Linked DNA regions of Homo sapiens: region 2 is linked to region 1. Evidence: fine-mapped expression QTL. A gene starts in region 1. The other region holds a variant in brackets. All regions are shown on one strand. Distances are between the middles of the regions.

Region 1 (15,840 bases):
CTCTCTCGATTGGTTCCTTCCGGATGATGTTTTAACCAACTGAATGGTCCTTTTTCCAAGACCACTCATGGACCAATCGGCAGGCATGCCCCCATTCTAAGCCCATAAAAATGATAGACTCAGCCTCACAGATGGCTACCACTTTCAGGGTCCCCTCTCGCAGTGGAGAGTTTCCCTTCTGTCATTCAATAAAATTCTTCTCTGCCTTACTCACTCTATGGTACCTGCACACCTCATTCCTCTTGGTTGCAGGACAAGAACCCAAAACTCGCCAAGCTGCGGGTGACGGGAATAAAAGAGCTGTAACACGCTCCCGCTCACCAGACTACAGGAGAAAGAGAGCTGTAACACGCTCCCACTCACCAAGCTACAGGAGTGAAGAGCTGAGACAGTGCTGGGGACTCAGATCTCAGGACTCCCCAAACAAGAGCTATAACACCCCTTGGAGCTCCACAACTGATGGTATTTCCCAAGTTTTTGGGTGCCACCATGTTCCCCTCATCTAGATGCCAGCACCCAACACAGAAGCCACTCGTGGCACACCCAGTCCAGCCATGGGCTGAGTGTGGAGCCATGGCAGGTGTGGGATCCAAGTGGGCATGAGCCAAGTGCAGCCTGCTGGGCCAAATGGGCCCAGAAGGCCCAAGCGAGGCCCCGACAGAGGTGAGGGCAGCTGCAGAGATTTCTGGCTGGCAAAGTGGCACTGAAGGAATTCTGTAACATGATCACAGCTCACTGCAGCCTCAACCTCAACTTCCCCAGGCTCAGGTGATGCTCCCACCTCAGCCTCCCAAGTAGCTGGGACTATAAGAGTGCACCACTACACCTGGGTAATTTTTTGTAGAGATGAGGTCTCACTATGTGGCCCAGGTTGGTCTTGGACTCCTGGGTCCAAGTGATCCTCTCTTCTTGGCCTCCCAAAGTGCTGGGATTCCAGGCGTGTACCCCTGTGCCCGACCTGGCAAGCCTTCTATCCTCACATCCCTGGTCATTCTGCTCACTATGGTTAGACCAAGCTGGTCTTTTTGATGCTCCTCAAATACATCTAGAACACTCCTGCTGTGGGGCCTCTGCATTGGCTATTCTTTTTGCTTTGAACATTCTTCCCCCAGGTCACCACGGGGCTGGCTCCTCACTTCATGCAGGTCTCTGCTCCAGCATCACCTCCTAAGAGAAAACTGCCCTATCTACAAGGGCATCCCTCGCCCTAGTTTCTAAGCCTGTTACTCTTTTCTCCATACTGGTTATTATCATTTAGTATCCTATGAAGAATGAATTAGGAGCCAGGAGCGATGGTTCATGACCGTGATGCCAGCACTTTGGGAGGCCGAGGCAGGAGAATTAACTTGAGGTCAGGGGTTCAACAGCAGCCTGGGCAACATAGCAAGACCCTACCTCTACAAAAACATAAGTTAATAAAATTAGCTGGGCATGGTGGCACACAGCTATGGTGCCAGCTACCCAGGAGGCTAAGGTGAGAGGATCCCTTGAGCTCAGGAATTTGAGATTACAGTGAGCTGTGTTTGAACCACTGCGCTCTAGCCTGGGCAACAGAGCAAGATTTTGTTTGTTAAAAAAAAAAAAAAAGAAATAATTAATCCACTCATCTGTCTTTTCCCTTGGCACTAAGCACATGGTCTTTTTTTTTTTTTTTTTTTTGAGACAGAGTCTCACTCTGTCACCCAGGCTGGAGTGCAGTGATGCAATCTCGGCTCACTGCAAGCTCCGCCTTCCGGGTTCACGCCATTCTCCTGCCTCAGCCTCCTGAGTAGCTGAGACTACAGGCACCCGCCACCACGCCTGGCTAATTTTTTGTATTTTTAGTAGAGATGGGGTTTCACTATGTTAGCCAGGATGGTCTCGATCTCCTGACCTCGTGATGCACCAGCCTCGGCCTCCCAAAGTTTTGGGATTACAGGCGTGAGCCACCACGCCCGGCCAACCATTTTATACTCTTTAGGAATCCAGAGTTTAGTGAGTAATTTACCTGAGATTAGAACACACATCTCAAAATAGTCTTGGGGTTTTTCTTTCTTTTTTTTTCAATCTCTAGACTAGCAGAGTCTTGGTATTTTTCCTTGGGAATCTCCCCTTTCCTAGTCACACCCGTCCATACAGGTAGACAACTGTCGACCCATGAAAAGGAAACACACTCCTCTTTGTTCTCCCTGACCTTAGCTGTCCTCAGGATAAAACTTCCCACAAGATCAACTTCAGAAGCTGTACGTGTTTTGTGTGGCTTATACAACATGGTTAAAAAAAATCTGAGCCCAGATTTAATAATGGTTAAGTATTCATCCAGAAAAACTGGATTTCTGGCTCCTCTTGCAACTCAGAGGATTGGACAAGCTGGGCCAGCATTCCCGCATGGGCACAAGGAGCTGGAGCTCAGAGGCACTCCCAACTCTGGATGAGGTGTGGTTTTCACAGCTCAGCACTGGCCCAGCTCCTCCAGTTCCCACTTGGCCCTGTGTTTCCTGCCTGGCCCCTGTAGGGAATGAACTTGAGATTCTGAGGTGAAAACAGGAATCTCAAAACAGCCTTGGCAGTGGCTCACACCTGTAATCCCAGCTCTTTGGGAGGCTGTAGCAGGAGGATTGCTTGAGCCCAGGAGTTTGAGAATAGCTTGGGCAACACAGTGAGATCTCATCTCTACAAAAAAATTAAAAATTAGCCAGGCGTGGTGGTGCGTGCCTGTAGTCCCAACTACTTGGGAGGCTAAGGTGGAGGATCACTTGAGCCCAGGTCGAGGCTACAGTAAGTTATGATTGTGCCATGGAACTCTAGCCTGGGTAACAAAATGAGACCCTGACTCTAAAAAATTAAAAAATAAAGAAACCAAGTTGGGCGCGGTGGCTCATGCCTATAATCCCAGCACTTTGGGAGGTCGAGGCAGGTGGATCACGAGGTCAGGAGGTCAAGATCATCCTTGCTAACACAGTGAAACCCCGTCTCTACTAAAAATACAAAAAAACTTAGCCGGGCGTGGTGGCGGGCGCCTGTAGTTCCAGCTACTTGGAGGCTGAGGCAGAAGAATGGCGTGAACCCGGAAGGCGGAGCTTGCAGTGAGCCGAGATCGCACCACTGCACTCCAGCCTGGGCAACAGAGCAAGACTCTGTCTCAAAAACAATAAATAAATAAAAATAAAGAAACCAGTCTTGGAGCTGTGTTTCAGAGAGCTTCGGCATTTTTTCAGGTGTCATCTGCCACCCCGGGCAGGGCAGTACAAATGTAGCCACTTCTCCAGGAACTCCCCATTTTCCACTCAGAACTCCATGAGAAGACCCACAGGCTCCTTTTCCTGCTTCCTGTTCCTTCCCTGCAGAAAGATCCTTTCTCTGCCAGGCTTACCTGCCCACTCCAGCATGTCCTCAATATTCTCCGCTGCCCCAGGCACAACGCGAGTCTGATCTGTGTCCTCTAGCCTCAGGATGAAGCTCCCCTGGTACTTCTTAGCAAAGATGTAGTTGTACAAGGCAGTGCGGAGGCCACCCAGGTGCAAGAAGCCTGGAGAAGAGAACAGCTCAGATAAGACAGGGAAGATAAGCTAATAGGCCTCAGCAAGGGGCAAGTAAGCACTACTGTGACAGAATGTTGCAATAAATTTAAAAGACCAGCAGGACACATTGGCTCACGCCTGTAATCCTACCACTTTGGGAGGCCAAGGCCGGGGGGATCACTTGAGCCCAGGAGGTTCCTGTAGGTTTTTTAAGACAAGAGTCTCACTCTGTCACCCAAGCTGGAGTGCAGTGGCACAGTCTTGGCTCACTGCAACCTCTGCCTCTTGTGTTTAAGCAATTCTCATGCCCAGCCTCCCGAGTAGCTGGGATTACAGGTGTGTGCCACCACGTCCAGCTACATGTTTGTATTTTTGGTAGAGACAGGCATTCGCCATGTTGGCAAGGCTGGTCTTGAACTCCTGGCCTCAAGTGATCCCCCCAGCCTCGGCCTCCCAAGTGCTGGGATCACAGGCAAGAGCCATCACACCTGGCCAATTTTTGTATTTTTAGTAAAGATAGGATTTTGCCATGGTGGTCAGGCTGATCTCGAACTCCTGACCTCAAGTGATCCATCTGCCTTGGCTTCCCAAAGTGCTGGGATTACAAGCGTGAGCCATTGTGCTTGGCCTGAGTTTGAGATCTGCCTGGGCAACATGGTGAGACCTTGTCTTAGCAAAAAATATAAAAATTTAGCTGGGCATGGTGGTACATGCCTGTGGTTTCAGTTACTGAGGTGGGAGGATCACCTGAGCCTGGGGACGCTGAGGCTGCAGCGAGCCATGATCACGCCTCTGCACTCCAGCCTGGGCAGCAGTAGAGTGAGACTCTGTCTCAAACAAAAAAAATTAAAAATTAAAAAATTTTTTTTCAAAGACTAAGAACTAGTTACCCCTGTGCCCTGTCTCCAGACACATTTAATCCCTCATCCTGAAAATGGAAACCACCCAGGATTTGGAGCATGTCATTTTATTAAAAGGCTCCAATTTTCCCCAACTGCATCCACCACTCTATTTTGATATTTGTCTCAAGGCCAAGTTTCGCCTGAAAGAGAAGCAGAGAGTTATTCATTGAGGCCATATCATGTACATTTAACTTACAGAAATTCAATGATGTGCGCTGGGAAAAAAATTAATTACAAACAAACTAGAAATTTAAAATACTGTACAATCATATTGTGGGCCAGGTGCAGTAGCTCACACCTCTAATCCCAGCACTTTTGGAGGCAGAGGCACGAGGATCACCTGGGTCTCTAAATTTGAGACCAGCCTGGGCAACATTGTGAGATCCTGTCTCTACAAAGAAAAAAAAAATCGGTGGGGCATGGTGGCTCACACCTTTAATCCCAGCACTTTGGGAGGCCGAGGCGGGTGGATCACAAAGTCAGGAGTTTGAGGCCAGCCTGGCCAACATGTTGAAACCCCGTCTCTACTAAAAATACCACAAAAAAAATTAGCTGGGCATGGTGGTGGGCGCCTGTAATCCCAGCTACTTGGGAGGTTGAGGCAGGAGAACTGCTTGAACCCAGGAGACAGAGGTTGCAGTGAGCCGAGATCGCACCATTGCACTCCAGCCTGGGCGACAGGGCGAGACTCCATCTCCAAAAAAAAAAAAAAAATCACATTTTGCATATGCAGTCTATGCAGTGTGCATGACTGTCCACGTCGTACATTTTAAATTTCATCTACTTGAGATTTTTACTTTTTTAAAGAAACAAAATTCATTTTTGAAATTTGAGATGGGGTCTCACTCTTGCCCAGGCTGAAGTCCAGTGGTACAGTCACGGCTCACTGCAGCCTCAACCACCCAGGCTCAATCAATCCTCCCACGTCAGCCTCCCAAGTAGCTGGAACTACAAGTGTACACCACCATGCCCGGCTAATATTTGTTTTTTGGTTTTTTTTTTGCAGAGGCAAGGTCTCACTATGTTGCCCAGGCTGGTCTCAAACTCCTGGGCTCAAGCAATCCTTACACTTCAGCCTCCCAAAGTGCTGGGATTACTGGCATGAGCCACCATGCCTTGCCAAGATTTTCACCCTAATTGCTGGCTTTAAACACTAACCAAAAGTAGTGTTTGATTCCACTGTATTTCTCTTCATCAGTTTAAACTCCTAAGATTTGCCTTTTTCATCATTCCTGTCTGAAAACTGAAAGTTAACAGCTTTTCCAGAGTTGTCATTACCTCTTACCGTACCTTCTTCGGACCAGCCCACAGCCCTAAGTCTCCACAATGAGCTCATCTACATTTACAAGTACAAGAGGCAGCAGAGGAGAGAAAAAGCTCTTCTGGGGCCAGGCCGACCCTGCTTCAACACTGATGTGTGTAACCTTCGGATAGTTACTGCAAGGACACCAGAAAACCAGTGGTATTCAGTGGCACTGAGTCCCACGAGTCCCCAAGACAAAAGAGGAACCCAGCTGCTGAAAACAAAGCCTCTTACATCAAGTACACCTGGATTCAAATTCTGCATCCACCATTTATTAGTTGCTACCCCTTGAGAAGGAACTCTACTTAACTTTTATGAGCTTCTATTTCCTCATCTGTCAGAGGGATTAAGAGCAAAAAAATAAGAACCTTCTTTATTATAGGGTTGCTCTGAGGTCTAAATGCTGACCAAAGTAAACCCTCAATTAATTTCAGCTACTGTAATGATCTGTGCCTGATAATTCTTTTATCTGTTTATAGTCAAAAGCCTTTCCCACATGGGCTTTCCCCGCAAATGAGCAAGGAAATGAGAAGTACAATCATCATAATAGAGGCTGTGTATTAAGTGCTTTCTGGGTGTACTAGACCTTACTAAGTGGTTCGGCTGCATGAGCTTAACCCCATAAGACAGATATTATTATTAGCCCCGTTTTGACAAATGGTGAAACTGAGGCTCAGATTCATTAAATAATTTGCACATCTAGGCCAGGTGTGATGGCTCACACCTATAATCCCAGCACTTTCGGAGGCCAAGGCAGGTGGATCACTTGAGCTCAGGAGTTCAAGATCCGCCCAGGCAACATGGCAAAACCCCATCTCTACAAGAAAATACAAAAATTAGCTGGGCGTAGTGGTCACACACTTGTAGTCCCAGCTACTCGGGAGGTTGAGGTGGGAGGATCACTTGAGCCCCGGAGGCTGAGGTTGCAGTGAGCCGAGATTGCACCACTGCACTCCAGCCTGGACGACAGACAGAGCCAAACCCTGTCTCAAAATAACAATAATAATTTGCACATCTAGTAAGTTACACATCTAATAAGTGGCCACGACAGAAATTTGGACCCAGGCAATCCCAGGCTTTGGCATTCTACATAAGTGCTCTTCAAAGCAAAGTGTGCAATCCAGTGCTGGTCTGAAAACAGTTGTCAGTTCACAATCAAGTACAGAAACTGAGAGTAAAGGTTTAGAAACTTTTGTTGTTGTTTTGAGATGGAGTCTCACTCTGTCACCCGGGCTGCAGTGCGGTGGCACGATCTCGGCTCACTGCAACCTCTTTCTCCTGGGTTCAAACGATTTTCAGCCTCCTGAGTAGCTGGGATTACAGGCCTGGGCCACATGCCCGGCTAATTTTTGTATTTTAGTAGAGACAAGGTTTTGCCATATTGGCCAGGCGAAACTTACATAGCAATCTGGCAGAATGATTTTACCTCTGCTAACCCAAATAAAATGAGATTGGTTTGTATTTTGGATGTTTTCAAAATTTTATTTTTCTGGTCATTATATTAATTTTGTGCAAATATTGATACACAATTGATTGGAAATTTAAAACCAGCACTTCCACAACAGATGGTTTGAAAGGCACTGCTCTAGGCTATACTGCCTGCCAGAAAGATCCTGTCATGTATAGCTGGGATTTTACTACAAAGATCTTTGTATGTTCATCCTGGGATTTGGGATGAGAGGCATACTCCGTGTAGAGAACGTAGAAGGTAGCCTTACTGGTGGGAACCAAAAGGCCCTGACGAGATCTCCAACAGGCTATACAATGGGCCTCTGTCACCCTCTAGCTTGCTAAGCTCCCAACAGCACTAGCACAGTGCCTTGGTACCTGCGATTTCCTCTACCCAGAAGGTTCCTTCTTTTTTGTTTTTGAGACACAGTTTCGCTCTTGTTGCCCAGGCTGGAGTGCAATGGCGCGATCTTGGCTCACCGCAATCTCCACCTCCTGCGTTCAAGCGATTCTCCTGCCTCAGCCTCCCAAGTAGCTGGGATTACAGGCATGCGCCACCATGCCCAGATAATTTTGTATTTTTAGTAGAGACAGGGCTTCACCATGTTGGTCAGACGGCTCTCAAGTGATCCACTTGACCTCAAGTGATGCACCCACCTCTGCCTCCCAAAGTGCTGGGATTACAAGCGTGAGCCACCGCGCCTGGCCTCCAGAAGGTTCCTTCTATAGGCTTCACATAGCGTGCTCCTTCTTGTCATTTGGATCTCAGCTCAAATGTTACCTGCTCAGTAAAGCCTTCTGGAGCGTCCTTCTTAATCCCCAGTCTCCTATCCTGTTTCACTTCCCGCATGGCACATGTGACTCTAAAATTACACTTATTTTTTATAAGTGTCTGCGGCAGCCACTAGAATGCAGACTTCCACAGAGCAAGGCCCCTACCTTTCTCAATGATCACTGTATCCCAGCGTCTACAACACCTGTTACACAGGTTGTCATCAATGCACATGTATGGAATGCATGAAAAAAAGATCGAAAGAGATGGGATGGCACAAAAAACACAAGAAACTCCTGGCAATTTGAATTATTTCCGCTCCTGCACCTCAGTTTCCGCCTCTGTAAAATGGGCTCGCGCTGCCTTAACCCTCCTCCGCCCGCCCACTCTGACACCACCGGAAAGGATTCATTCGGGAACATTCGTGGGGCGGAGACGGGACAGGGGGCCTCGGCCTGTAGCGTCACGTCCGCCAGGGTTACCTGTGGGGCTGGGAGCGAACCGCACTCGCACCGCAACCCCGGCATCAGTGCCCAGGTTGGCCTCGCGCCGTCCTACGGGGCGGCCAGAGGCCGCCGAAGGCCTCTCGCGCTGCAGCAGTCTCCTCAGGAGCGCCGCCATGTGGGATGGAATAGCACACGTGGGCTTCTCCCTGCGTCACTTCCGGGGACTGCTTCCAGCCAATCGGCCTCCGCCACAGCCAGCGCAGCCTTGCCCCTTAAAGTCACAGGCCCCCTAGCGCGAAATCCCACGCCCCCCTGGACGGCTGCGGCCGCACTCGCCACCAGGGGGCAGAGGCCAGAGAAAGGGCTATTTCCCGGACCCGCCCCCTTCAGCTTGGGAAAGCGAAAGCGTGGCAGGGGCCGGACCTGGGAGCGGAGGAGGCGGGTCTCCATAGAAACCTCCACCTGTTTCCGGCCGGGCTGTGAGAGATTAGGGGCTGCTGCGGGGGCCAATCTCAGCCAGCTCGCCTCTTCCCAGCGGCCTCTGCGGGAGCGGTGGGTGTTGTACACAATCATCATGGCGGCGGCCGGGGCCCCGGATGGTGAGTGCGGCGGGGGTGGCGGGCGCCGGGCCGGGGCTGAGGTTGCGGTCGCTCCTCTGGGGGATGCGGCCCGGCCCGGGAGGGAGAACCGCGGCTCGGGAACGGAGGTCCGGCGGCGCCCGGACAGCGTCCGTTCCCAAGCCCAGCCCGCGGCGAGCGCCCACCCCCTAACCCCCTTGCAGGCATGGAGGAACCTGGCATGGACACGGAGGCCGAGACTGTGGCTACTGAGGCTCCCGCGCGGCCCGTCAACTGCCTGGAGGCTGAAGCCGCGGCGGGGGCGGCGGCCGAGGACTCCGGCGCCGCACGAGGCAGCCTGCAGCCGGCCCCGGCCCAGCCCCCTGGGGACCCCGCAGCCCAGGCCTCGGTCAGCAACGGCGAAGACGCGGGCGGCGGCGCGGGCAGGGAGCTGGTGGACTTGAAGATCATCTGGAATAAGACCAAGCATGACGTGAAGTTCCCCCTGGACAGCACAGGCTCCGAGCTGAAACAGAAGATCCACTCGATTACAGGTAATTCCTGTGGCGCTGACAGCCAGTCTTCCCCACCCCGCCTCCTGATGGCCCTTGCACCCTACTAGGCACCTGGTGGCTTTCCTTGCATCAGGTCCCCCCATCCTTACAGCAGTCTTCTGAAGGATACTTGGATGCCCATTACTCAGCTGGGGAAAGAGACTCAAGTTTATAGAGCTAGTAAGTTGCAGAGCTGGGATTAAAGCCGAAGTCTGACGTTTAGGCCCCAGTTTCTCATTGATGTTGCTCTAACATCTCTAATTAAAAAATCACCTAAGGCGCTTGTTTTACAGCTTCTGGGCCCTTTCCCAGGAGATTCTGATTCAGTGGGTCTGGGATGTAGCCAGGAATTTATTTTTAGCAAATATCTTAGGTAATTCTTCTAAGTGAAGTTTAGGAAACGCTGCTATTGACTTTGATGCTGGTTCTTCACAGTCGATTCTGTTTCTTAATTTTACCTTGTTCATAGCTCTTTGCCATCTGAGATTTCTTTTCTTTTTCCTATTTTTTTTTTTTTTTGAGACGGAGTCTTGCTCTGTTGCCCAGGCTGGAGTGTACTGGCACCATCTTGGCTCACTGCAGCCTCCGCCTCCCAGGTTCAAGCGATTCTCCTGCCTCAGCCTCCCGAGTAGCTGGGATTACAGGTGCCCGCTACCCCGCCGGGCTAGTTTTTTTTATTTTATCCACCCACCTCGGCCTCCCGAAGTGCTGGGATTACAGGCATAAGCCATCACTCCTGGCCTTGAACTTTTTTTTTTTTTTAAAGCTTTCTACATGTAGCCTTGTAATCTCCATTAAGAACAGGAGTTTTGTCCCTATTGGCTTCTGTAGCTCTGATGCCTGTGGATTCTCACTTAATATGTGAATGATTTAGATGACTGAGGAACAACTTGGAAAGAATGAGAGCTAGTACTTACTGAACAATTATTCAATGCTAGCCACCGTACTAAATGCCCCGCATTGGTCTCTTAATCCTTGAAACAGGTCTGTACAGAAGGACTTACTCTAATAAATCTTCTACAGTTCTAGAAACTGAGGTTCAGAGGTTGTAAATCTCCCAAGTTCACAAAGCTAATAGGTGGTGGAGGCAGTATTCACTTTTTGGTCTGTTACCAAAGAGCTGTGTAGTATCCATACATTTTTCTGTCCTTCCTTCCTTTCACTGTCCACCTTCTACCTTTTCCCAAGGTCTCCCGCCTGCCATGCAGAAAGTCATGTATAAGGGACTCGTCCCCGAGGATAAAACATTGAGAGAAATAAAAGTGACCAGTGGGGCCAAGATCATGGTGGTTGGCTCCACCATCAATGATGTTTTAGCAGTAAACACACCCAAAGATGCTGCGCAGCAGGATGCAAAGGCCGAAGAGAACAAGAAGGAGCCTCTCTGCAGGCAGAAAGTGAGTCCATCTTGTGCTTCTTGGTCTTGAGAAATTTGAGGCTTTGTCCTCTTGAGCCGTGGCTGGTTATATTCTCCCTAGAATAAGCTCCTTTTTGGACAGGGCCCATGATGGAAATTTATGGCAGCAGTTGGGTGCCGCAGAGTGGAGGTGACAACTACCTGAGATTTGCAACTTTGTCTCATCTGGCGGGTCAGTGTGTCTCAAGTCTACCTACTTTAGGATAAGACCTTGGTAAAGGGAGGCTTCAGACCATGTGTTGAAAGGAATCAGACGTGGGTTTCTCTCTCTTATTTAGTGCCAGAGAAAACTACCAGTACTAGAAGTAAGCCCTCATTTTGTACAAGTGCTTACATTTGGCTTTTTGGTTTGTGGCTTTCCCCAAGTCAACAAGCCTGGCTAGGCATGGAAATCAACAACTCTCGGAGGTTCCCCTAAAGCTGACCGTTTCAGGAAGCTAAATGAAGCTGAGTAGGAAGACAACTACACTGATGGATTTGTTTATTTATTTTTTTGTCCTGATCTGTGAAATAGGAGCTTGGTTTTTTACGTTCTCTGTTCTTTTGGCTGCAAGAGATCCTGCCTTGTCTTGTGCTCATCATAGCCATTAACATTCTTTCACGTAACGAGGAAAAGTGAGATTATTTTACTATGGAAGGAACAGGTTGTAAGAATCATTACTTGTTATCTTTTTACCTGGCAAATTATACTGATTGCTGTGTAGCCTCCTGATCGTTCTTCCTAGTGTTCCAAGGAAGACAGGTATTCTCAACTGTGTCTGAAGTAGAGTAGATAAACTTCAATCAACATCATTTAGTGACCATAGACACTAAGATATATGACCAACAGTAAGAAAAGGACACAGTTTGTGTTACAGATCCATAATCCCCCATGTGTGCTTCCAAAACCCCAAAGGAGTATAAAAACGAGAAGTGTTTTTATAAATTTAACAGCAAAACCTGACCAGAATTAGTGTGAATTTTCCTCTTTGGTGACAAGGTACTGCCCCAGACCCCACAGAGAAGATTGTTATGTATTTGAAAGCAATATTATCTTTATAAAAATTCCAAAACCCTGAAAGTTCAAAACTCTAGGGTTTCAGATAAGGGGTTATAAACCTATATTAATTATCTAAAAGGTGTTGATTTGGAGACTTCACCCCCACATATGGGGTCTCAGTGTCTTGAAACCGATTGAGTTTCTTCTCATATTCCTGTTTTTCTTTGCCACATGTATGAAATAGTGAAATGTGAGCACGTCAGATAGGAGTGGTCGCAATGGTCACACCCTTGGAGCATAACATGCCTCCTAAATACAGGTTTTTAGTTACTAATGGTAGCTTAACAGGCTTAGAACTGTTCTCCACAGTACAGGAAATCTTGTTCAAAAGGTACTTGAAAGGTGTGACTCGAATTGTACTTCCAGCCCATGCTGCTGTGTTTCATTGAGGCCAATTATGATGCATCACATGACCTAATGAGAGGGATATAGTCCCTTGCCTTTTTACCAGCTTATTAAGGGGTCTGGGGGTGATGTCTGGAGTGACTTTTTGCTAGCAGTCTGGCAGTGCTGAGTTTATTCCTCCCAGAGGGATTCCACCATGCCAGTGAGGATTTGGGCTGGCTTGTGGCTGCCTAGTGCTTACATTTGATTAAATTGTTACCTTCTATCCATTCATTGTCCCCTAGTTCCAGCCTTCCAAGCAGTGGCTATGCCTATAAGGCCACAGATGGAGAAGAAAGAAGACTCAGGCATTTGGGCCAGGCAGGAGAACTGTTTAAGGGGCCCTGAACTTAGAATCCTTGAAGAGCTGCCTCAGAGTTCTTGGGGCAGGTGGTAGGGGTGGAGTTTAGAGGCTTCTTAATGTCAGGTTATAGAGTAATAAGCATTTCTTTCTGAAAGGTGGCTCTTCCAGGTTCCTGTTTAGCTGGAGTTAAGGGTAGGGCAGTGGGGAAAACTTCGGCGATGGGCTGGGTCTCCATTTGTTGAAGAACTGCTCCTCCTAGGCAGTTAGACGGATTACCAGCATCTTATAGTGTTCTCTGGAAGTTTAAGTTGAAAAAGGTGGGTGCCATTTTTTGTCTGCTAGGAGAGCAACACCCTTTGTCGCCCTCTTTAGTTTGATGGTTTAATCATTTCAGTGGTGATTTTTTTTTTTTTTTTTGAGGGGAGGAGGGCAATCTGGAAATCCCGTTTGCTGTAGAACTTTGATATCTAATATGGTAGCTATCCACATGTGGCTGGTTAAAATGAAATTAAGAATTCAGTTCCTCAGTCATAGTAGCTGCATTTCAAGTGTGTAATAGTCACAGCAGTAGGTAGTGGCTAGCACAGGTACGAACATATTCGCCCTCCCAGAAAGTTCTGCTGGACAGCACTGTGCTATAGTTTCAAAGGATCCATAGTCTGTCGTCATTAAAAGCTTTTGAGCCAAAACACTAAGGCTTTCTTCATCCTCTCTTTCAAGGGAATAGTAACACGACGAAATGTAGTCAGCTGTTTCATTTCATTCTCTCTTCTGACTTATAGCAACACAGGAAAGTGTTGGATAAAGGAAAACCTGAAGATGTGATGCCATCTGTTAAGGGGGCCCAGGTAAGGCGGATTTCTTTGTGAGCATTCTGAAAATGAGGCAGCCCCACCGTCTGACTTGAGGTTCCTCCAATCCTGTCCCTTCTCTTTTTTCCCTGTTTTTTTTTTTTTGAGACAGAGTCTTGCTCTGTCACCCAGGCTGGGGTGTGCCACCACACCTGGCTAATTTTTGTATTTTTAGTAGAGACGGGGTTTTACCATGTTGCCCAGGCTAGTCTCCAACTCCTGACCTCAGGTGATCTGACCGCTTTGGCCTCCCAGTGTGCTGGGATTACAGGCGTGAGCCACCGCGCTTGGCCCCCTTCTCTTTTTTTCTGACTGTCCCTCCATCTCTTACCATTCTCTCGTGCCTTCAGGAGCGCCTGCCAACGGTACCGCTGTCCGGCATGTACAATAAATCTGGAGGAAAAGTGAGACTCACCTTTAAACTAGAACAAGACCAGCTGTGGATTGGCACTAAAGGTATGTTCTTCCTCGCCTCCTTGCTGGCCCACTGCCTGCCTCTGGCACCCAGCAGCACTCACATTTTAGAGTGCGATTTCACCCCTCCTTCTGAAACCTCTCTCTCCACTGTGCTTTGCTTGCTTCTGGCTTTTAAATTTGCTTTTAGATGCTCGCCTTTTGTTTGGACCGTTTTCCCTCATTGTTTTCAGTCTGATCTTAGGGCTGATCCACCAAACAGTGGCTCTTCAGTTGCACACAGATTTGGGGGTCCCAAACACGTGGCCCAAGGGCCAAATCTGGTCCACAGAAAAATGTTTTGTGGGATGACACACAATCTGTAAAAATTGGGAGATTTCACTAATCTGATTTTTTTTTTTTTTTTGGCTTCTCTTGAAAACTCAAATGATCTGGCCCTTTGGGGCCTGCATTCTCACATGGCATCGATCCACTAGAGCCGAGTGGTGGTTTCCAGTGGGCCATACTACAGTCTTCATGGTCCCATTTATCTTAGAAGTAGCCAGCTTTGTTCATTTGTCACCTGCCTGGCCCCTGTAGGTCAGAGTTTGACCCTATAGTAGGTGAAGTTTTCCTAACCGCTGCCGAGGAATCTGCCTCTCCCTCCCCGCCTGGTTGCCCTCTGCCTGCCCCACCCCCGCCTGTGCACGGTGTCTGGATCAGCCTTGCTGTTTGCTGGGAAGTGTCTCTGACTGTCCTCCCTCTCCCTTCCCCCAGATGGTTACAAAGTCTTGTTAGTTACACTGCAGAACTGTCTGTCCCTTTCTTTGCCACACTGTTGTGCCAGTTAAAGTTCCCAAGCATCTTTAAACTTGGTCTGTTCAAAGCGAGTTACCCTGTTTCACTGCCCCATCTGTGTTTTCTTCTGTCCTGTCCATCTTACCTACTGCTTTTTATCCTGGGTACCCGTGCTCAAGGACCTTTGGCTGTTTAAGGACACATTCAAATGCCTAACCATAGCGTTCAGTGTTCTCAACACTGGGCCTTAGTTTAAATTTTGGTTCCAGCTTCTGGCCCGTTTGCCCTGTGGTCCCCTGTGTATTTTAGCCGCATCTCTCTGTGAAGCTCCCAGTGTGCTTTGCACAGCTCCTTGTCTTTGCTCATGCTGTGCCCTTACCTGGAATGCCTTTTTCCCATTCCTTGTTATTAATAAAATCTTCCAAGGCCCTACTTAAATGTCCTCTCTGAATGAAGCCTTCCTTGATTCTCCCCCCACCCTCCAAATGACTTGCTGCCGCTTCTGTTCATAGAGCGCTTCGTTTATATCCCCAGAGCACTCATTACTCTCTGACTTGTCTGTCCCCCTGTTAGATTCCTGGAGGGAACCGAACATGCCTAAATCACCTGTTTCTGACCAGCACTGTAGGTATTCAGTGTTCGAGGTAAATGCTAAAGAGAAGTATAGGGGGTCCCATCATCTGACGTTCACTGGTTTCAGGGACAGACCATTTAGTGAGACTCCACTTAAAATGGGACCAAGTTTTATGGAGAATAATTGGGGCAGGGGTGGTGGGAAGAGAGAGTTTTTAATCATCTAAAACACAAAAATCAGTGTTCAACCCTATACTGATTGTTAAAATGAACAAAAATTGAAATGCCAAAAATGCTTGAGTTTTCTATCAATTTTATGATAACTTGCTATTTTCTTCATTTCACATTCAACTCTAACTGCATGGTCAAAGCAAGTTTTGCAGAATATCTGAGGGTTCCCCCCAGTTTTTGCAAGGGCCTTTGAACCCTCTGCTAGATCATTCTCTTCTGTAGAGCCTGTCCATCTTCCCTTTATCAGTAGTAAGCTGCCCAGCCTCTGTCAACTTTGCAGGTGATTTTGCTTAGTTCTGTCTCATCACATTCACTTGCTGAAGTGCATAGACTTCCTGCCTCTTGCTGGACCTCTACTTTTGCTTGT
Region 2 (9,507 bases), 32 kb before region 1:
TCCAATAAATTCCTTTCATGGTTTCAGTTAGTCTGAGTGTGTTTCTATGCATTGCCACCAAGATCACTGTTTCTAAGGATGAAAATAATGGTGATAGTTACCTAACATTTATTAAATGCCATGTAATGTTCTAAGAACTTCATATATGTTGCCAGGCGTGGTGGCTCATGCCTGTAATCCCAGCCCTTTGGGAGGCCGAGGCAGGCGGATCACCTGAGGTCGGCAGTTTGAGACCAGCCTGATCCACATGGAGAAACCCCGTCTCTACTAAAAATACAAAATTAGCTGGCTATGGCGGCACATGGCACATGCCTGTAATCCCAGCTACTTGGGAGGCTGAGGCAGGAAAACCACTTGAACCCGGGAAGTGGAGGTTTCAGTGAGCCAAGATCACGCCATTGCATGCCAGCCTGGGCAACAAGAGTGAAACTACGTCTCAAAAAAAAAAAAAAAAAAGAACTTCGTATATGTTATCTATTCCAATCCTTACAACTCTTTGAGATGGGTACAATTCTTATTCCTATTTTACAAACAAGAAAATTGAGGTACAGAAAGTCACATGTGAATAAGGGGCAGAATGTTTCTGAATCTAGACAGCCTCTGTGCCCTTCACTGCTGCACTATACCCTCAAAACACTGGGGATGGGCTTGAGGTTATTTAAAATGTATGAAATTCCTTCAAACACTTTTACTTAGCCAGGTGTGGTGGCATGCACCTGTGATTCCAGCTACTCAAGAGGCTGAGATAGGAGGATCTCTTGAGCCCAGGAGTTAGAGCTACAGTGAAATATAATTGTGCCACTGCACTCCAGTCTGGGCAGGCAACAGAGCAACATCCTCTTAAAAAAAAAAAAAAAAGTCTTACTGATCCTGAGCAAAACCCTCAAACAGAAGACAGACGTCTGGAGCTGCTTTCAAGATAGCACAGCACACTTCACTTGAGGAAGTAGCAACAGCTTTATTAATTTCGCTTTTTTATTAATTTCTTGTTGAGACAGAGTGTCGCTCTGTTCCCCAGGCTGGAGTACAATGGTGTGATCTTGGCTCACTGCAACCTCCCGTTCTGTGGGGGTTCAAGTAATTCCTGTGCCTCAGCCACCCAAGTAGCTGGGATTATAGGTATGTACCACCACACCTGGCTAATTTTTGTACTTTTAGTAGAGATGGGGTTTCACCATGTTGGCCAGGCTGGTCTTGAACTCCCGGCCTCAAGTGATCTGCCTGCCTTGGCCTCCCAAAATGTTGGGATTCTAGGTGTGAGCCACCAGGCCCAGCTCTAATTTAGTATTTTTTAAAAACTGTGGTAAAATACAGAAAAATATAAAATTTACCATCTCAGTCATTTTTAAATATACAGTTCAGCGGCATTACGTATCTTTATAATGTTGTGCAATTATCACCACCATTGACCCCTGTAACTACATCTTGCAAAACTGAAACTCTATACCCTAAACAGTAACTTCCCATTTCTGCCTCCCCAAGTCTGACAACCACCATCTTATTTTCTGCCTGTATAATTTTGATTATTTTAAGTAATTCAAATAAGTAGAATCTTACAGTATCTATCCTTTTAACTTTATTTTATTCATTTTTTTTTTTTTAGACACAGGATCTTGCTCTGTTGCCCAGGTTAGAGTGCAGTAGTGCATTCATAGCTCACTGCAGCCTTAACGCCTCAGCTCAAGTGATCCTCCTACCTTAGTCTCCCAAGTAGCTGGGACTACAGGCATATGTCACCTCACCTGGCTAATTTTTAAATTTTTTGTAGAGACAGGATCTCACTATGTTGCCCAGGCTGGTCTCCAAACTCCTGGCCTTTGACAAGCCTACCACCTTTGCCTCACAAAGCATTAGGACGTATTTGTCCTTTTGTGACTGACATTTCATTTAGCATGAAGTCCTAGAGGTTCATCCATGTTGTAGATATACCAGAATCGACTTAGTATTTTGACCACTCACTTTGTTAAAAACACTCACTTGACCATGAGCCAAGAAGCTCCTTTTAACCATTCTTAATGTCTTAGAAACAGATGCTCTGACAACACTCAGTAGATCAGAGTTAAGCTTGGACTCTGGATCGGCACAGATCTGAGTTTAAATCTTGGTTTTGCCTCGTACTATAACCTCGGAAGTTTTAGTTAACTTTTCAGAACCTCGGTTTCCATATCTGTAACAGAAAAAAAAAATACTGCTTCTCTCATAGTGTTATAAAAAAAATTTACTGAGATGATGGACTAAGGCATTTACGAGCATTATCTGACACCTGGGAGAGGGTGAGGCTCATATAAGCGCACAATAAATTACAAGTATTATTATTGTCCCCTTCTGTGGTCAACCACCTGTTGTTTCTGCCATTACATCATCTTCTGGAGAAAGCTCCCTAGTTTTCCTTGAGAACAACTTTTCCTCCATTGCATATAATCCCTGTGAAACTACCTATTACTGGCCAAGGAATGGTAGCAGGACCTCAGATAGCCCAACAGATACTTGCTCCTCAGAATCTGAACCTTGAGCAGAGTCATCCAAAACTGAGGGGAAAACACGGAGAAATTAACAACAACAAAACGGCTGTAGTTCATGTGTCGCCATCAAAGAACTCAGACAAGATTGGCCATTAGCTCCTGTAGCTAGTTCCTGTCTTTTCCAAAACCTGTTTTTTTTTTGGCTTTTTGGTAGATGCTGTGGCTCTCTTATGGCCTCCAATAAACATAAGTGAGGCAGAGTTGGTTTCTATTGTTTGCAACCAACGAACTTAATGGATTCTGTATTAGAAAGAACTGGTATATTTCTTTAAGCAAAGACTAGGACTCTATGGGGCTCAACAAACTCTGTAATCGCCTTTCCACTCCCCTGGACAAAATAAATATATTGTCTACTGCTGAAACGCAAATTATCCCCAAACCAAGTAGCTTTAAACAATAAACGTTTACTATCTCACAGTTCATGTGTGTCTGACGTTCCGGAGCAGCTTCTCTGAGTGGTTCTGGCTTAGGGTCTCCCATAGAGGTCACAAGCGAGATCAGCTAGGATTGCGGTCATGTGAATGCTTGGCTGGAATTGAAGGACCAGCTTTCAAGATTGCACACTCCCATGGCTATTGGTGGGAGGCCTCGATCCCTTGTCATGTGGAGCACTCCATAAGGCTGCTTGAGTATTTTCATGACCTGGAAGCTGGCTTCCCCCAAAGTAAGCGATCAAAGAAAACAAGACAGAAGCCACGATGTATTT[T/C]ATGACTTACCCTCAGAAGTCAAACTCTCATTTCTTCAATAGTGTAGTGGTTACACAAGTCAGGCCTATTCAATGTGGGAAGGAACCACACAAGGGTGTGAATAGAAGAAGGCAGGGATGGTTGGGGGCCAACTTAGAGGCTGGCTGCCATGCAGGGGAAGCCTAGAAGCCTGGTAGGGGTTCATGTACCCTGCCACCATCCTCCTTTCACTTGCTATTCCTCTTCACTGAAGACCCCAAGAAGCATATCTCATTTCAGAAACCAGCAGAGATGATGACTTATAAGTCATGGAGGAAGGACGAGGTGGATTTGAAGAGAAAGCCACAAAATAGGAAGGGTGAAGGTCTCCAGTCCAAGGACCAGGTCTGGAAGACTGGAAAAACGGAACAGATGACGTTTAGGGAAGGGAGACACAGGCTGCCCCAAGGTTCAAGAATAAAGGGTAGCATAAGACAAGAGTGCTTACCCTTGGCAGTGGAGTCACACTTCTCCTTTTACAACCCCAAAGAAAGTCTGGTGTCCAGTTCAGCCCTGCTTGTGTCACGTATCCTTTGCTGCTCTGAGTCCTTGGGGCCTGAGAACTGGGACCCATGAGTCCTGCTGCCCAGCTGCTACGGGCTGAATTCTGTCCCCCTAAATTCTTACGTTGAGAAACCCCTGGAACCTCAGAATGAGACTGTACTTGGAGATTGAGCATTTAAAGAGGTGATTAACTTAAATGAGGCTGGTTAAAGTTAAAATCCAGTCCAACTGGTGTTCTTAGAAGAGGAACGTTGGGCACATAATGAAACTTAGAGATGTGTGTGCATGGAGGGAAGACCGCACAAGGACACAGTGAGAAGACAGCTGTCTGCAAGCCAACAAAAGAGGCCTCTAGGAAAAACCAGGCCTGCTGACACCTTGATCTTGAACTTCTAGCCTCCAAATGTGAGAAAATAAATCTCTGTTGTTTAAACCACCTGGTTCTGTGGCATTTTGTTATGGGGGCCCTAGCAAACTGAAACCCAAGCCTTCTGCACTGTTCCGGGATGTTAACTTTTCTGTGAACTAACTCCAAACCTCTGCTGTGTAATGTGTGAGAAACCAGACCCGGAGAATGCCTTTCCAGAGTCCAGGAGGTTAGATGGGTTGGGCTTCCCCAGCCAATTGACAAAAACGTGCCTGTGGTGGATCACAAATGCACTTGTGTGCAGTCAGAGATTGTTTCCACTCTTAGTTCCTTCAGCAAACTTCCCGACGGGCCCCAGGCCTCCTTCTGGTCTCTGAAAGCTGTTTCTAAGCTCACAGGTTCTTAGGGCGATCTCCACTGCCCGAAACATCCTCTCCCTAGCTGGAAACCACCTTCTGGATCCGTTCCCGTACTTCCTTTGGTCCCAAGGCCAACATCATCTCAGCTACAGGAGGTCCTTGCTAAGAACAAAAAGAGCAAATATTGCCTTACTACCTTAAACAGCCTAAAGAACTGAAGCTCAGCCTTAGTCTGCAGAAATTATTCCCAGGCCAGCCCCCACACTGCTGCCTGTGTTCTGAGGATCAGTGCTTGTGTTATTTCCCTGGAAAAGGATGGGTCCTAAGAGCCTGTTTCTCCTCCAACCACCGCCCTTTTTTTTTTTTTTTTTTGAGATAGAGTCTCACTCTATCACCCAGGCTGGAATACAACGGTGCGATCTTGGCTCACTGCAACCTCTGCCTCCCAGGTTCAGGCAATTCTCGTGCCTCACCCTCCCAAGTAGCTGGGATTACAGGCGCACCACCACCCCCAGCTAATTTTTGTATTTTTAGTAGAGACAAGGTTTCACCATGTTGCCCAGGCTGGTCTCAAACTCCTGACCTCAGGTGATCCACCTGCCTAGGCCTCCCAAAGTGCTGGGAATACAGGTGTGAGCCACCGTGCCTGGCCTGATTTTCCCATATTAAGTAAGCTGTTGCTAGGTCTGTTATCCCCAATAAACTGCAAACCCCATGGAGGCAGAGATTATGTATGTGTGTTTAATTCTATATTGTATTCACTGTACCTAACACAATGCTTGCACATAGTAGGTACTCAATAGTGTCTGTTGATTGACTAAATGAGGGGAGTGATCATGTTTCATTCACCTTTGTATACTCAATATTGAGCTCAGTGCCTGCCAGGAAATGTAAGTTCAAAGGATCAATGAGGGGCTCCAGGGAACAATCCAACCCGTGTCCCTGCCTCACCTGCTGTCCACTGAGGGCCATCCGAAGGAGTTTCATCACATTACTGTACTTGGTGCCTTCCAGACCTTCTGATAGCTTCTTCAGTTCTCCATTCAGCATATCCTGAGTTAAGCTCATACTAGATCTTTCTAGAAGCCTAGAAGAAGAGGGCCAGTTTACAGGGCCTGCATGGGCCAATGGCAAGTGGGTGGGAGGAAGGGCTTCAGAAGGTTATTGATCAGCTACAGTACGAGCAGCACAACCAATGTTCAAGCCTGTTTTGAGGGAGGTGAGGAAGATATTGACCACTTTCTCCCTTATCCAGGTCGGGAAGGAAAAACCACCAAGGGACCACACACAGAGAAGCCAGTGGTCACAATGCAGGGAGGTAAGAGGTGCCATAAGAGGCTTTACTCATTGCTACCTCTGTGTCATGCAATCTTTATGCCTCAGTTTTCTCATTTGTAAAGTGGGGAGAATAATAGTATCTGAGGCTGGCGCAGTGGCTCACACCTGTAATCCCAGCACTTTGGGAGGCCAAGGCAGGCAGATCACTTGAGGTCAGGTGTTCGAGACCAACCTGGCCAACATGGTAAAACCCCATCTCTACTAAAAATACAAAAATATTAGCCAGGGATGGTGGCGGGTGCCTGTAGTCCCAGCTACTCAGGAGGCTGAGGCAGAAGAATTGCTTGAACCTGGGAGGAGGAGGTTGCAGTGAGCCGAGATTGCACCATTGCACTCCAGCCTGGGTGACAGAGCGAGACTTTGTTTCAAAATAAAAAAAAAAAAATAATAGTATCTGTCCTGCACAAGGCTATCGTAGAGAGTTAAAACTTATAAAGCACCAAGTGCCTGAACACATGATAAATACTCAGAAATATTACCTTTTTTTTTTTTTTTTTTTGGAGATGGAGTCTCGCTCTGTTGCCCAGGCTGGAGTGCAATGGCACGATCTCAGCTCACTGCAACCTCCACGTTCCAGGTTCAAGCGATTCTCCTGCCTTAGCCTCCTGAGTAGCTGGGATTACAGGCACGTGCCACCACGCCCAGCTAATTTTGTATTTTTAGTAGAGACAGGGTTTTACCATGTTGATCAGGCCGGTCTCAAACACCTGACCTCAGGTGATCCACTCACCTTGGCCTCCCAAAGTGCTGGGATTATAGGCAGGATTATAGGCGTGAGCCACCATGCCCGGCCAAGTATTACATTTCGTATTTGAATTTAAAATTTTTAAAAATTAGTTAAGTACAATCAAGAGCTTTGAGACATTACAAAAGGATCTAAAAAGAAACAGTTCTGCTTGCAGGCACAACAAAAAAGAAACTTAGGAATAGATTTGACATAGAATGGATAATTTCTGGGAAATTATCTGAAATACAGCTTTAAGATTGGTAGAGAGAGACTTCTTTGGAGACGTAGCCAAGAAGAGAAGAAATCAGAAGACCCCACCCAGCTCCAGCAATGGCTCTGCCACCAACTTGCTATGGCCATTCTTCCACAAATTGAAGCCTCTAGGATTCCAGCGGGCCAGCAACCAACCCCCACATCCTGGCAGTCCAGCTGAGCAAGATGCTCTGCCCAAAAGCTTTTGTTTCAGGAGAAATTCTCCATTCAGTTAGAGGTGGACTTAACAAAAATTTGCCTCGGCCCTGATTGAGTTAGTCAAGAGATGGGAATAGGCTGGGGATGAGTATATTTCACTGCAACTTTCCAGTTCCTCTCAGTTTTTAAAAATAATTAATTATTTTTTTTTTAAGACAGGATCTTGCTCTGTCACCTAGGCTGGAATGCAGTGGTGCAATCACAGCTCACTGCAGCCTCAAACTCCTGGGCTCAAACGATCCTCCCACCTCAGCTGCCTGAGCAGCTTGGACCACAGGCACCCACCACGATGCCTGGCTAATTTTATTTTTACCTTTTGTAGAGATGGGGTCAAGCTATGTTGCCCAGGCTGGTCTCAAACTCCTGGCTTCAAGTGATCCTCCCCATTCACCCTCCCAGAATACTGGGATTACAGGTACAAGCCACAGTGTCCAGCCTCCCTTCAGTTATTACTGGAGATTCCAACATGGAAACACTGAAGAGGAACTGGGGCTGGACATCTTTCTGGTGCAGATGGTCTGTGATGTCAGTTCTGACCCTGCCTGCTCAAACATGGTCCAGGCAACTGCATTCCAAAGTCAACTCAGTATGGACCACTACTGTCTCAGGGAACTGGGTTCATAAGTGATTTGAAGAAGCAGCCTTTCAGTGCAGACAGATCTCCTTACTAACTGTCAGCACTGAAGCAGATGAGTTTCAATTTCAGACAAGAGTGATCGTTCTTTTTTTTTTTTTTTTTTTTTGAGACAGAGTCTTGCTCTGTCGCCCAGGCTGGAGTCCAGTGGTGCAACCTCAGCTCACTGCAAGCTCCGCCTCCCGGATTCACGCCATTCTCCTGCCTCAGCCTTCCGAGTAGCTGGGACTACAGGCGCCCACCACCACACCCGGCTAAATTTTTGTATTTTTAGTAGAGACGGGGTTTCACCGTGTTAGCCAGGATGGTCTTGATCTCCTGACCTCGTGATCGGCCCGCCTGGGCCTCACAAAGTGCTGGGATTACAGGCGTGAGTCACCGCGCCCAGCAAAGGATGATCGTTCTTACTGCATCATCTCTATGTTCGGAATGTTTGTGTTCCCCTAAATTCATATGTTGAAATTTTAACCCCCAAGGGGACAGTATTCACAGGTGTGGGCTTTGGGAGGTGAACAGGTCATGCAGGCCGAGCCCTTATGCACAGATGAGTGCCTTTATAAAAGACACCCCAGAGAGTCCCTCGTCCCTCCACCACGTGAGGATGCAGCGAAGGGCTGGAAAAGGGAAGGGCCCAGGAACAAGGCTCTCACCAGACACTGAATCGGCGGCACCTTGACCCTGGAGTTCTAGCCTCTAGATCTGTGAGAAATAAATGTCTGTTGTTGAAGCCACCAGTCTATGTTATTTTGCTATAGCAACCCCATGGACTGAGACAATTATTAACTGGGTCACATGAGTACTGCTATTTACAAAAATCAGGAGATGAAATACTGAAGACAAAAAATATAATGTGGGAAAAAAGCAGACACTCTCCCCAATGGCACTGCAGGGAAGCAGGCTGCCGAGGAGCTGATGAAACAATGACAGGCCCCAGGCCGGGAACAATGGCAGTTCCAGACCTGCTAGAGCTGGCCCAGAGTTAAGAACCATGGCATAGGCACAGAAAGGATTTCTAGTGATCTGGCAGCTCCTGAACATTTGGGTATCAGCTTTCCTGACTCGAGAGGGAGTCCCAGAGCAAATCTAAAACCCAACCTCATGGTGGAGACAGGCAGTTACGACACTGAATCCTGGTGAATTAGAACTAATAGGCCCTGGCCAGGCACTATGGCTCACGCCTGTAATCCCAGCACTCTGTGAGGCTGAGGTGTGAAGATTGCTTGAGCCTAGGAGTTTGAGACCAGCCTGGGCAACATGGCAAGACCTTGTCTCTACAAAAAATAAAAAAATTAGTTGGGCGTGGTGGCTTGTGCCTGTAGTCCCAGTTTCTAAAGAGGCTGAGGTGGGAGGATGAGCCCTGAGCTGCTTCCTGCAGATTGCTACATAATGGAGAAATGTACTTCCACAAAGGACATGCGCTGTCATTTCTTTTGTCTGGTAGAGAGTCTTGCCCTCTAGTTACCTGATACACAGCCTCTGCAGGAAAAGTGGTCAGCATCGGCGAGTAGGGGCAGAAGGGGAAAGGCAGAGAGCGAAAGCGAATCTTGGTAATGGAGTACCGACTCCTGCATTAAGCTGTGCCTCAAGCAGCCCTTCTTCTAGCATCTACAGTTACATAAGCAATTATTCCCCTCTTGCCTAAGCCAGCTTTGGTTGCGTTTGTAATTGAAAGTTATTACTGTTACAGTAAGAATTAGCATCATCTCTCTCTCACTGAGAAGGAAAAGGAAGCTCAAATAGGTACAGTAACTTGGCCAAAGTGAAGCCGCCTGAGCAAGGTGACATAATCTGGTGAGTACACGGCAGAGCTGGGATGCAACCAGGTTGGTGCAAGCAGTGAACACATGCCTATGTCCAGAG

Evidence for each region. PIP is the estimated chance that this variant, and not a neighbour inherited with it, causes the effect.
Region 2: its variant is fine-mapped to the expression of EARS2 in whole blood (TOPMed, PIP above 0.99).

What each region holds. Positions count from the first base shown.
Region 1 is chr16:23,548,797-23,564,636 of GRCh38, forward strand. It overlaps EARS2 (glutamyl-tRNA synthetase 2, mitochondrial), which reads right to left and starts at 8,554. Exons shown (of 9, transcript NM_001083614.2): 1 at 8,409-8,554; 2 at 3,353-3,508. The coding sequence starts at 8,547. It overlaps UBFD1 (ubiquitin family domain containing 1), which reads left to right and starts at 8,931. Exons shown (of 7, transcript NM_019116.3): 1 at 8,931-8,971; 2 at 9,154-9,483; 3 at 10,672-10,880; 4 at 13,410-13,475; 5 at 13,829-13,934. The coding sequence starts at 8,947. RefSeq lists enhancers at 7,239-7,883, 8,244-8,523, 8,528-9,172, 8,714-8,913, 9,173-9,816 and silencers at 8,984-9,073, 9,174-9,353.
Region 2 is chr16:23,519,816-23,529,322 of GRCh38, forward strand. It overlaps EARS2 (glutamyl-tRNA synthetase 2, mitochondrial), which reads right to left. Exons shown (of 9, transcript NM_001083614.2): 8 at 5,429-5,564; 9 at 939-4,639. The coding sequence ends at 4,556. It also overlaps a transcript of GGA2 not described here. Among named protein-coding and RNA genes, the nearest start is that of GGA2, 14 kb to the left of the region's middle. The variant T/C (reference allele first, on the strand shown) is at 3,229.